Linked DNA regions of Homo sapiens: regions 1 and 2 are each linked to region 3. The links come from fine-mapping of genetic effects on gene expression. A gene starts in region 3. Each other region holds a variant in brackets. All regions are shown on one strand. Distances are between the middles of the regions.

The links.
Region 1: its variant is fine-mapped to the expression of UBE2QL1 in sun-exposed skin (GTEx, PIP above 0.99).
Region 2: its variant is fine-mapped to the expression of UBE2QL1 in sun-exposed skin (GTEx, PIP above 0.99).

Annotation. Positions count from the first base shown.
Region 1 is chr5:6,404,120-6,406,876 of GRCh38, reverse strand. No RefSeq gene overlaps it. Among named protein-coding and RNA genes, the nearest start is that of MED10, 27 kb to the right of the region's middle. The variant T/C (reference allele first, on the strand shown) is at 1,312.
Region 2 is chr5:6,517,139-6,519,895 of GRCh38, reverse strand. No RefSeq gene overlaps it. Among named protein-coding and RNA genes, the nearest start is that of LINC01018, 64 kb to the left of the region's middle. The variant G/A (reference allele first, on the strand shown) is at 1,391.
Region 3 is chr5:6,447,615-6,450,371 of GRCh38, reverse strand. UBE2QL1 (ubiquitin conjugating enzyme E2 QL1) reads right to left here and starts at 1,513. Exons shown (of 2, transcript NM_001145161.3): 1 at 1,125-1,513. The coding sequence starts at 1,478. LOC105374639 (a long non-coding RNA gene) reads right to left here and starts at 1,035. Exons shown (of 2, transcript XR_007058679.1): 1 at 1-1,035. RefSeq lists a silencer at 1,481-1,550.

The DNA of each region.
Region 1 (2,757 bases), 43 kb after region 3:
GAGGGCGTGGAGGCTGGCACAAGGCTCGCAGCTCCCTGAGGTCTTTGTTCTTCTCATCAGCAGCTCCTGCCTGGATCTGCCCTGTTTGTTGTGATGTTGAATCGGGTCACCACCCAAATGACAGCTGGCTTTGGTTTAACCTGTGTTTTTCCAGAGAAGCCTTTGGCGTGGAATGGGCATTCCTGGAGCCACTGGAATTGTGTGGTGGCAGGAGCCCGGAAGCTGGTATGCCTCTGTGAGAGTATCCTTGCTGAGGAGTGGGGGGGGTGGGGGGGCACAGCTATTTGACCTCTAGGGCACCTCACCCCCCGCAGGAACAGGGTATGGCCTGTGCAAGCAAAAATACGCGATCAAGCTGTGTCTTTCTGCAGCCAGTTGTCCCATGGTCAACTCTGAGGGCTCCTGAGATGGACCATGCTATGAAATTGGAGCTGTCAAGGAGGAATCAGGCTCATTACAGAGATCCCTGCTCACCAGTGCTTCTGCCACAACAATAAGTCATGCCATCAATTTTCAAAGTGCTGATGCAAATGCCCATGGATCATGTTCAAGATTTTATGAAACTTAATTAAACAAGATTATTCACCTGTATTATGTAACTGTACATGCATATTTGCACTTAACAGTATTTCTAATTCAATGTCAACATCACAATTCACAATGAAATATGACCCTGAAAATGAAAGATGGAAGTTGACATGAACACTTTTAAAAGATTTTTAATGTGCTTCTCACTGAGATATGTAGCATTTTCAACTTTTGTACAATCTGAAATGCATTCAGCACATTGGTAAAGAGCTGTGCAGATTTCAGTTAAAAAACAAACAAACAAACAACAACAACAACAAACAAACAAAAAACACAAACTGTTGCTAAAGCCAGAAGGGACATTTCAAATGGCTTTTTTTTGAACTACATTCCATGGAAAAATTTTATTTCACTTGTGCCATAGAAACATGGGCTTCTGGCACTGGGACAAACCCTACAGGTCATTGGTCACAGAGCCCCATTTTGCAAGTGAGTGACCAGAAGCCCAGAGGAGGAAAGTGGCCCACCAAGGCTGCCACTAACGAGGGGAGAACCATGCACTTGAGTTGGGGCTGATGGCAGTTCTGGGCATGCCCACTGTTTGCTCAGGGAGATGCAGGCCTTGCTGGCTTCGGAAGTAACATCCGTGGATTTGACATCCCCGCCCCCCATAGATCCTGTTATTCTCAAGGCTCCTTTTCTTATATTTTGAAATTTTCTTCCAATACTTTGCCAATATTAAGTTACTTGCTAAGAATGCTGGGCAGAAATAATCAGATGGAA[T/C]AGCCAAAAGATCGGTTATCACATTCAACTAGTACAGTCCTGCTACAAAACCACCTGTATTAAAACAGAGAGAATGGCAGGCGCCAGATGGTTGAAAAGGGAACTTTATTTGTGTGTGCCAAGTGGAATTGAGAAATATTTGGTCAACAAATATTTCTCAGGCTGGGCCTGGTGGTTCACGCCTGTAATCTCAGCACTTTGGGAGGCCAAGGTAGGTGGATCACTTGAGGTCAGGAGTTCGAGATCAGCCTGGCCAACATGGTGAAGCCTCATCTCTACTAAAAATACAAAATTAGCCAGGTGTGGTCGGGGGCTCCTGTAATCCCAGCTACTCGGGAGGCTGAGGCAGGAGAATCACTTGAACCCAGGAGGTGGAGGGAGGTGGCAGTGAGCCAAGATCACACCACTGCACACTCCAGTCTGGGCGACAGATTGAGGCTCCATTTCAAAAAAAGAAACCCAACAAATATTTCTCATTGAGATTCTGTATCCTGATGTGCATTGATTTCAAAATTGATAAGTTTTTTATTTTTTATTTTTGAGAAGGGGTCTTGCTCCGTTGCCCAGGCTGCAGTGCAGTGGTGTGATCATAGCTCACTGCAGCCACGGACTCTTGAGCTCATAGAATCCTCCTGTCTCCCTCCTGAGTAGCTGGGACTACTGAGGCCACCATGCCTAGTTAAAATTAATAAAATTTAAAGTTGTTAGTGGAACAAATGCACCATGTAAATGTATACTACATAGTCCCATTAAAACACTCCAAAGAAGAGGTAAGCTTCCCAGGTAAACTCTAGACACATCATCTTTTGTTTCTTCACTGAATTTCACTGCAAGTCAAATAAAGGAAAGTTAATAAGGGAATAGAAATACATTCTTTAAAGTATTAAGCAGATATAAAGATTTGGAATCCAAAGTAGATTTCTGAGGAAATGGTATGAAAATAATTTCTCACAGCAGCTGGTTTGAGAAAATTCCCATCTTTAAGATCCCAGGAAATGCTTGGAAGAGTTTATCATTACCAGAATAATTTTAAAAATCATTAATTAGGATACAGCCTTATGTCTTCCTTATAAGCACGGTAGTCACACAGAGATATAGCCATATGTGATTCAATTTTTTAAAAGAAAAATGGTCTGTGTGTATCTGGAATGAACAGTCTTGGGGAATGTGTCAGCTGGTATTTAACCACACATCTGGATGCTCATGATCTGAGGTCCATGTGCCTGGCTGGGGAACAGTGTCCTGTGGGTCACGTGGCACAGTGAGTAGAAAAGTCCCAGATGGGAAAGCCCCAGTCAACCAGCCAGTGATGGCTGTTCTGTTCTCTGTCATTTATTCACTGTGCAAATTTGTTCGAGTTACTTACGCATTTTGTTCTTCACCTGTAAAATGAAGACATCAGAGTGGCTAACCTCTAAGGCCTCTTAGAATTCCTAACACATTACA
Region 2 (2,757 bases), 70 kb before region 3:
CAGGATGCTCCAGGGTACAGGATGTTCCAGGGTATAGGATGCTCTGGGGTACAGGATGCTCTGGGTAGAGGATGCTCTGGGGTACAGGATGTTCTGGGATACAGGATGCTCTGGGTAGAGGATGCTCCGGGGTACAGGATGTTCTGGGATACAGGATGCCTTGGGTACAGGATGCTCCAGGGTACAGGATGCCCCGGGGTACAGGATACTCTGGGGTACACGATGCTCCGGGTAGAGGATGTTCTGGGGTATAGAATGCTCTAGCGTACAGGATGCCCTGGGGTACAGGATGCCCTGGGGTACAGGATGCTTTAGTGTACAGTTGAAATAGACATAGGATGTGCAGTTAAGTTTGAATTTCAGATAAAAACAATCAACATTTTAGTGTAAGAATGTCCCATACCACATTTGGGACATACTTACACTAAAAAATCACTCGCTGTTTATCTGAAATTCAGCTTTGACTGGGCAGTCTGTATTTTTAATTGTTAAATTTGGCAACCTGCCTGAGATAGGAAATGTGACCCTGCAGAGACATGATTCAATCATTCAGGACTTTTTTTTTTCTGGGCTTCCACAGGTCCAGCCCTCTCTGAGGCCTCATCAGAATCCCCGGGGATTTGTTCACTCTCCTCCACTTGTTCTTGTAACAGATGCTTATTGAGCACCCTACAACCAGGAAACTGGACTTTACAACAGGGTGGTGAGGGCTATGACCCAGTCGGGGTGCCAGGAGGAGGGGCAGGTGTGGAGAAGCATAGAATGGGCAGGATCAACCCAACCTGGAAGGGTCATGGTGGCCTGTGTGGGGCTGATCTAGCCTTGCCCCAGGCCAGGAACAGAATGAAGTCCACTCTGGTGGGCAGAGAACAGGTGAAACGGGGGGAGGCAGTGAGAGATGGGAGGTTCCTCCATGCCAGGTGGTGCCTAGGCAGTTGGGTGCACCTGTGCACAGATCTTCACCACACATAGAGAGCCATAAATTCCAGTTTAATACACAAGGAGTGCACACTGTGAAAGTTGTCAGATTCAAAATGGAGTCACTTGTGTCAACCTCTGACAAATAGTGCCAGGGAAGCAGCGGGGGTTCTCACGTACCATTTGCCTGATAATGAGAGCTCTCACAAGAAATTTTCCCAAACTGGAGCTCACTAAGGAGTCACACGAGGGCAGCCAGCAGCACCAGGGCAGCCAGCAGCACCAGGACAGCCCCCTGCTCACACAAGAACACTCGCCTGGCACATTGTCACACAAGCCCCATACAAAATGACAAGGACCTAACCCTAGCTCCAAGATTGCAAGTCACACCCAGCAACCGCTCACATTTGCCCGTTGGCACGCACCAGCTCTTGCAAGTCACTGCCAGCCCCAGTGAACTTTCTTTCAAAAC[G/A]ACATGGGGCAACTCCTCTTTCCCCTATCAACTCTAACTTTTCCTTTGTTCTCTGTACCCACCAGAGGTCACCCTGGTCTGTATGGATGTCCCAGATTGTAATCCTACTTCTTGTATATTATTCCAAATTAAACCTTCTTATTTAGAGATTCAGCTCTCTTTTTTTTTATGTTGACATAACCTGTTGTCAGAAGTGGGGTTTGAAGCTGACTCACCTTGGAGAGATCAACGCCCCTGGAAGGATTGCATGGGGTGCCCACTCTGGGGCTCCTTGAGTGTCCCTGCCCCTGGCTTCCAGGGGTTGCTTCCTCCCCCGGTACCATGACTCTTTCTTGAGTTGAGCTCTCATTTTTGTTTCAGTTGAGTTCTTTGGTTTTATTTGGGTTTTGTTTGTGAGGGGTCTTTTCCCCTCCTGCTGCTGAGGTCTCCTATTAAGAGGGGTGATATGGTTTGGCTGTGTCCCCACCCAAATCTCATCTTGAATTCCCACGTGTTGTGGGAGGGACCTGGTGAGAGGCAATTGAATCATGGGAACAAGTCTTTCCCATGCTGTTCTGTTGATAGTGAATAAGTCTCATGAGATCTGATGGTTTTAAAAAGAGGAGTTCCCCTGCACAAACTCTCTTTCTTTCTTTTTTTTTGCCTTCTGCCATGTATGTAGATGCGATTTGCTCCTCCTTCCCTTCTGCCATGATTGTGAGGCCTCCCCAGCCATGTGGAACTGTGAGTCCAATTAAACCTCTTTCGTTTGTAAATCGCCCAGTCTAAGGTATGTCTTTTTCAGCAGCATAAAAATGGACTGATACAAGGGCCTTTTCTTCTCCTGATTTATGAGGGACTTTCCCTCCTGTTAAAGAAGGCTTTGTCGTCCTTCCCAGTGAGCACATACCTTATTCTTTGGTTTCATTTTGCACGCCTGATATTTTGCTTTTATGTGCTTGGCCTTAGTGCTGACTTGCCTCGATACATTGGTTTAAAGTATGGGCTCTTAAAGTTCAAAGGCAGGCTAAGATAGTTCCCTTCTTCTGGGACTCTAGCTGGTGACACGTTCAAACATTATGGAGGTCATTCAAACGGTTTGTTTTTCTTAGAACTATACGAAAAGACTCTGACTTAAAATCAGATAGTCCAGATAGGATGGGCATCTCAGTGGGTAACTCAAAGCTTCAAGCTGCACCCAGGACTCAAGGACTGCCTTCCTGCAAAACACTGTCTCAAAGCCAGCTGGGCTGTCTCCCCTTGGGAGCCTTGCCCACCTTCCCACGCCTCCTCCTCAAGCTAAAATCTATTTTCCAAAACTCCTCAGCTATTCTGGCATACTGACTATATAAGTAACAACACTTGAAAAACAGCAGGTACAAAAAAGA
Region 3 (2,757 bases):
CTCAAGTACTTTGGGGTTTCTTTGCGTAAAGCTGCCATCTGATGCAATAGGTGAGAAGGCTCAGGAGAACTGTTTGGCCCTTCGTTTCGTATTTCGTTAAAATCTTTAGCCCTGATAAAGGATTTAACTGCTTGGGGCAGTGAGGTAAGGGGATGAAGAAAAAGAAGCAGGTCTGAAAGAGACCAAGACCTGGAACGTCTACCCCAGAGGTGGTGGTCCTAAGGGGTTCGGGGAAGGAAGGGGGTGCTCTGAGGGGAAAACAGGCATTGCCGTGGGGGGGGGGGGTCTGGTCTTGTCTCTTAAGGGAATGCCCAAACCACACCGCCGCCTCTCTAGAGTGAGTTCCCAAGAGCAAAATTTCCACCTTTCCAGGAGAGGCAGCCCAGAAGAAGGCAGGGGGCGGATTTACAAGCAGGCAGCTGTCCCTCCCCACGGCACCCACCTGCAGATCTCCCACCCGAGTCCCCTGCGGAGGAGCCTTGTGTGTGTGTGTGTGGGGGGGGTTGGGGAGGTGGGAGATCAGCTAGGTTGGACACTTAAATCCTGAGGTCCAGAAAAAGTTCTCACCTTCATAGAGATTATAGGGACAGGAGATTGAGGAGCAGACAAGAGAGGGGCGAGAAAAGGTGAGACGGAGGGGAAAGAAGAGTAGGGGAGCCAGGGAGGGTGGAGAAGGAAAAAATGAAAAAGGAACGGGGGTGGGAATAGATGGGGGGACAGAGAAAGGGGTGAGAGGAGAAAGAGTCCAGGAGGAAAGGGAGAGGAGGGTATGGGAGAGGGAGGCTAAGGAAGAGGGATGGAAGAGAACTATGAAGGGATGAGGAGAGAATGAGCAAGCTAGAGAGACCAGAGAGACGGCAGAGACCGATACCAGAGAGACGGGCAGAGACTGAGACCAGACGGGGACGGGAGAGACGGGACGGAAAGCAGGGGCAGGAAGAAAACGCTCAGGGAAAAGAGGTGGAGGCGCTCGGAGCATCCCCGTGGGGCGCTGGTGTAGTCAGAGCAGGGAGCGAGATGGCCGGAGGGGCCGGCGCTGGCCCTCACCACGGGGCCCGGGCGCCCGGCGGCGCTGCAGACCCGATCTCGGCCCCGCGCCCCCAGCCCCGGCGCGCTCGCCTTACCTGGCCCTTGACCAGGCTGGCTGCGAACTGGCGCATGACGGCCTCCACGGTGTAGGCGCTGGACCAGCCGCGCGGCGTGAGCAGCTCCATGCAGATGGCGCCGCCGTCCAGCACGTAGCCGTTCTCCAGGCGCGGGCTGAGCACCCGCATGAAGGGCGGCGAGAAGGGGAAGTTGTCGGGGAAGGTGAGGTTGAGCAGGATGAACTCGGTGTTGGTCTCCTTCATGTCCTGCCACAGCACCGAGTCCTTGTCCACCTGGTGCAGCTTCACGTTCCAGTCGAACAGGCTCTCGTCCACCAGCTCCACGGAGATGAAGCGGTCGCTAAGGCGCGCGATGTCCTGCAGCTCCTTCATGAGCCGCCGGCTGCGCACCTGCGTGCAGTGTTGCTGGCGCGCCGCGGGGACCAGGCTGCCGCCCGCCGCCGCCGCCACCGCCGGGCCCGGCCCCGCCCTGGCGCCCGCTGCCCTCTCGCGGGGGCCCCCGGCCCCCGCCGCAGCCGCCGCCGCCGCCGCCGCAGCCGCCGGCGCCTTGTCGCGCGGGGCCAGCTCCGCCGCGCGCTTGCCCTTTCCCTTGCCGGGTCCCGGGCTGGCGTCGCCCGCGCCCCCGGGGTGCTGCTGCTGCTGCCACTGTGTGGTGTGTGTGTGCGAGCGTGGTGTGTGTGCATGTGATGTGTGAGTGTGGTGTGTGGTGTGTATGTATGTATGGTGTGAGTGTGGTGTGGTGTGTGTGTGAGTGTAGTGTGTGTAGTGTGTGGTGTTTGCATGGTGTGTGTGAGCATAGTGTATGAGTGTGTCGTGTGTGAATGTGTGATGTGTGTGTGGTGTGTGTGGGGTGTGAGTATGGTGTATGAGTGTGTGGTGTGTGTGCATGTGTGTGCTTGTGTGATGTGTGAATGTGTGATATGTGTGGTGTGTGTGTGGGGTGTGTGAGCGTGGTGTATGAGTGTGTGATATGTGTGTGCGTGTATGTGGTGTTAGTGTGTGAGTGTGTGGTGTGTGACTGGGATGTGGTGTGAGGGTGTGGTGTGTGTGTGCTGTGTATGTAATGTGTGTATGGTGTGTGTGAGAGTGATGTGTGAGTGTGTGAGGGTGTTTTGTGTGTGGTGTGAGGGTGATGTGTGTGGTGTGTGTGTGTGGTGTGTGTGTGGTGTGTGTGAGTAGTGTGTGTAATTGTGTGTAGTGTGTGGTGTGTGTGGTGTGTTGTGTGTGAGCGTGGTGTGTGTGCTTTGTGTGAATGTGTGGTGTCTGAGTGTGGTGTGTGGTGTGTGTGGTGTTTGCATGGTGTATGTGAGCATAGTGTATGAGTGTGTAGTGTGTGAATGTGTGGTGTGTGTGGTATGTGTCGTGTGTGTGGTGTATGAGTGTGTGGTGTGTGTGTAGTGTGTGTGCATGTGTGTGCTTGTGTGTGGTGTGTGAATGCATGATATGTGTGGTGTGTGTGGGGGTGTGTGAGCGTGGTGTATGAGTGTGTGGTGTGTGTGTAGTGTGTGCGTGTGTGTGGTGTTTGTGTGTGTGTGGTGTGTGACTGATGTGGTGTGTGTGTGGTGTGTTTGTGGTGTGTGTGTGAGGGTGTGTGTGGTGTATGAGTGTGTGGGAATGTGTGTAGTGTGTGCGTGTGTGCGGTGTGTGTGAT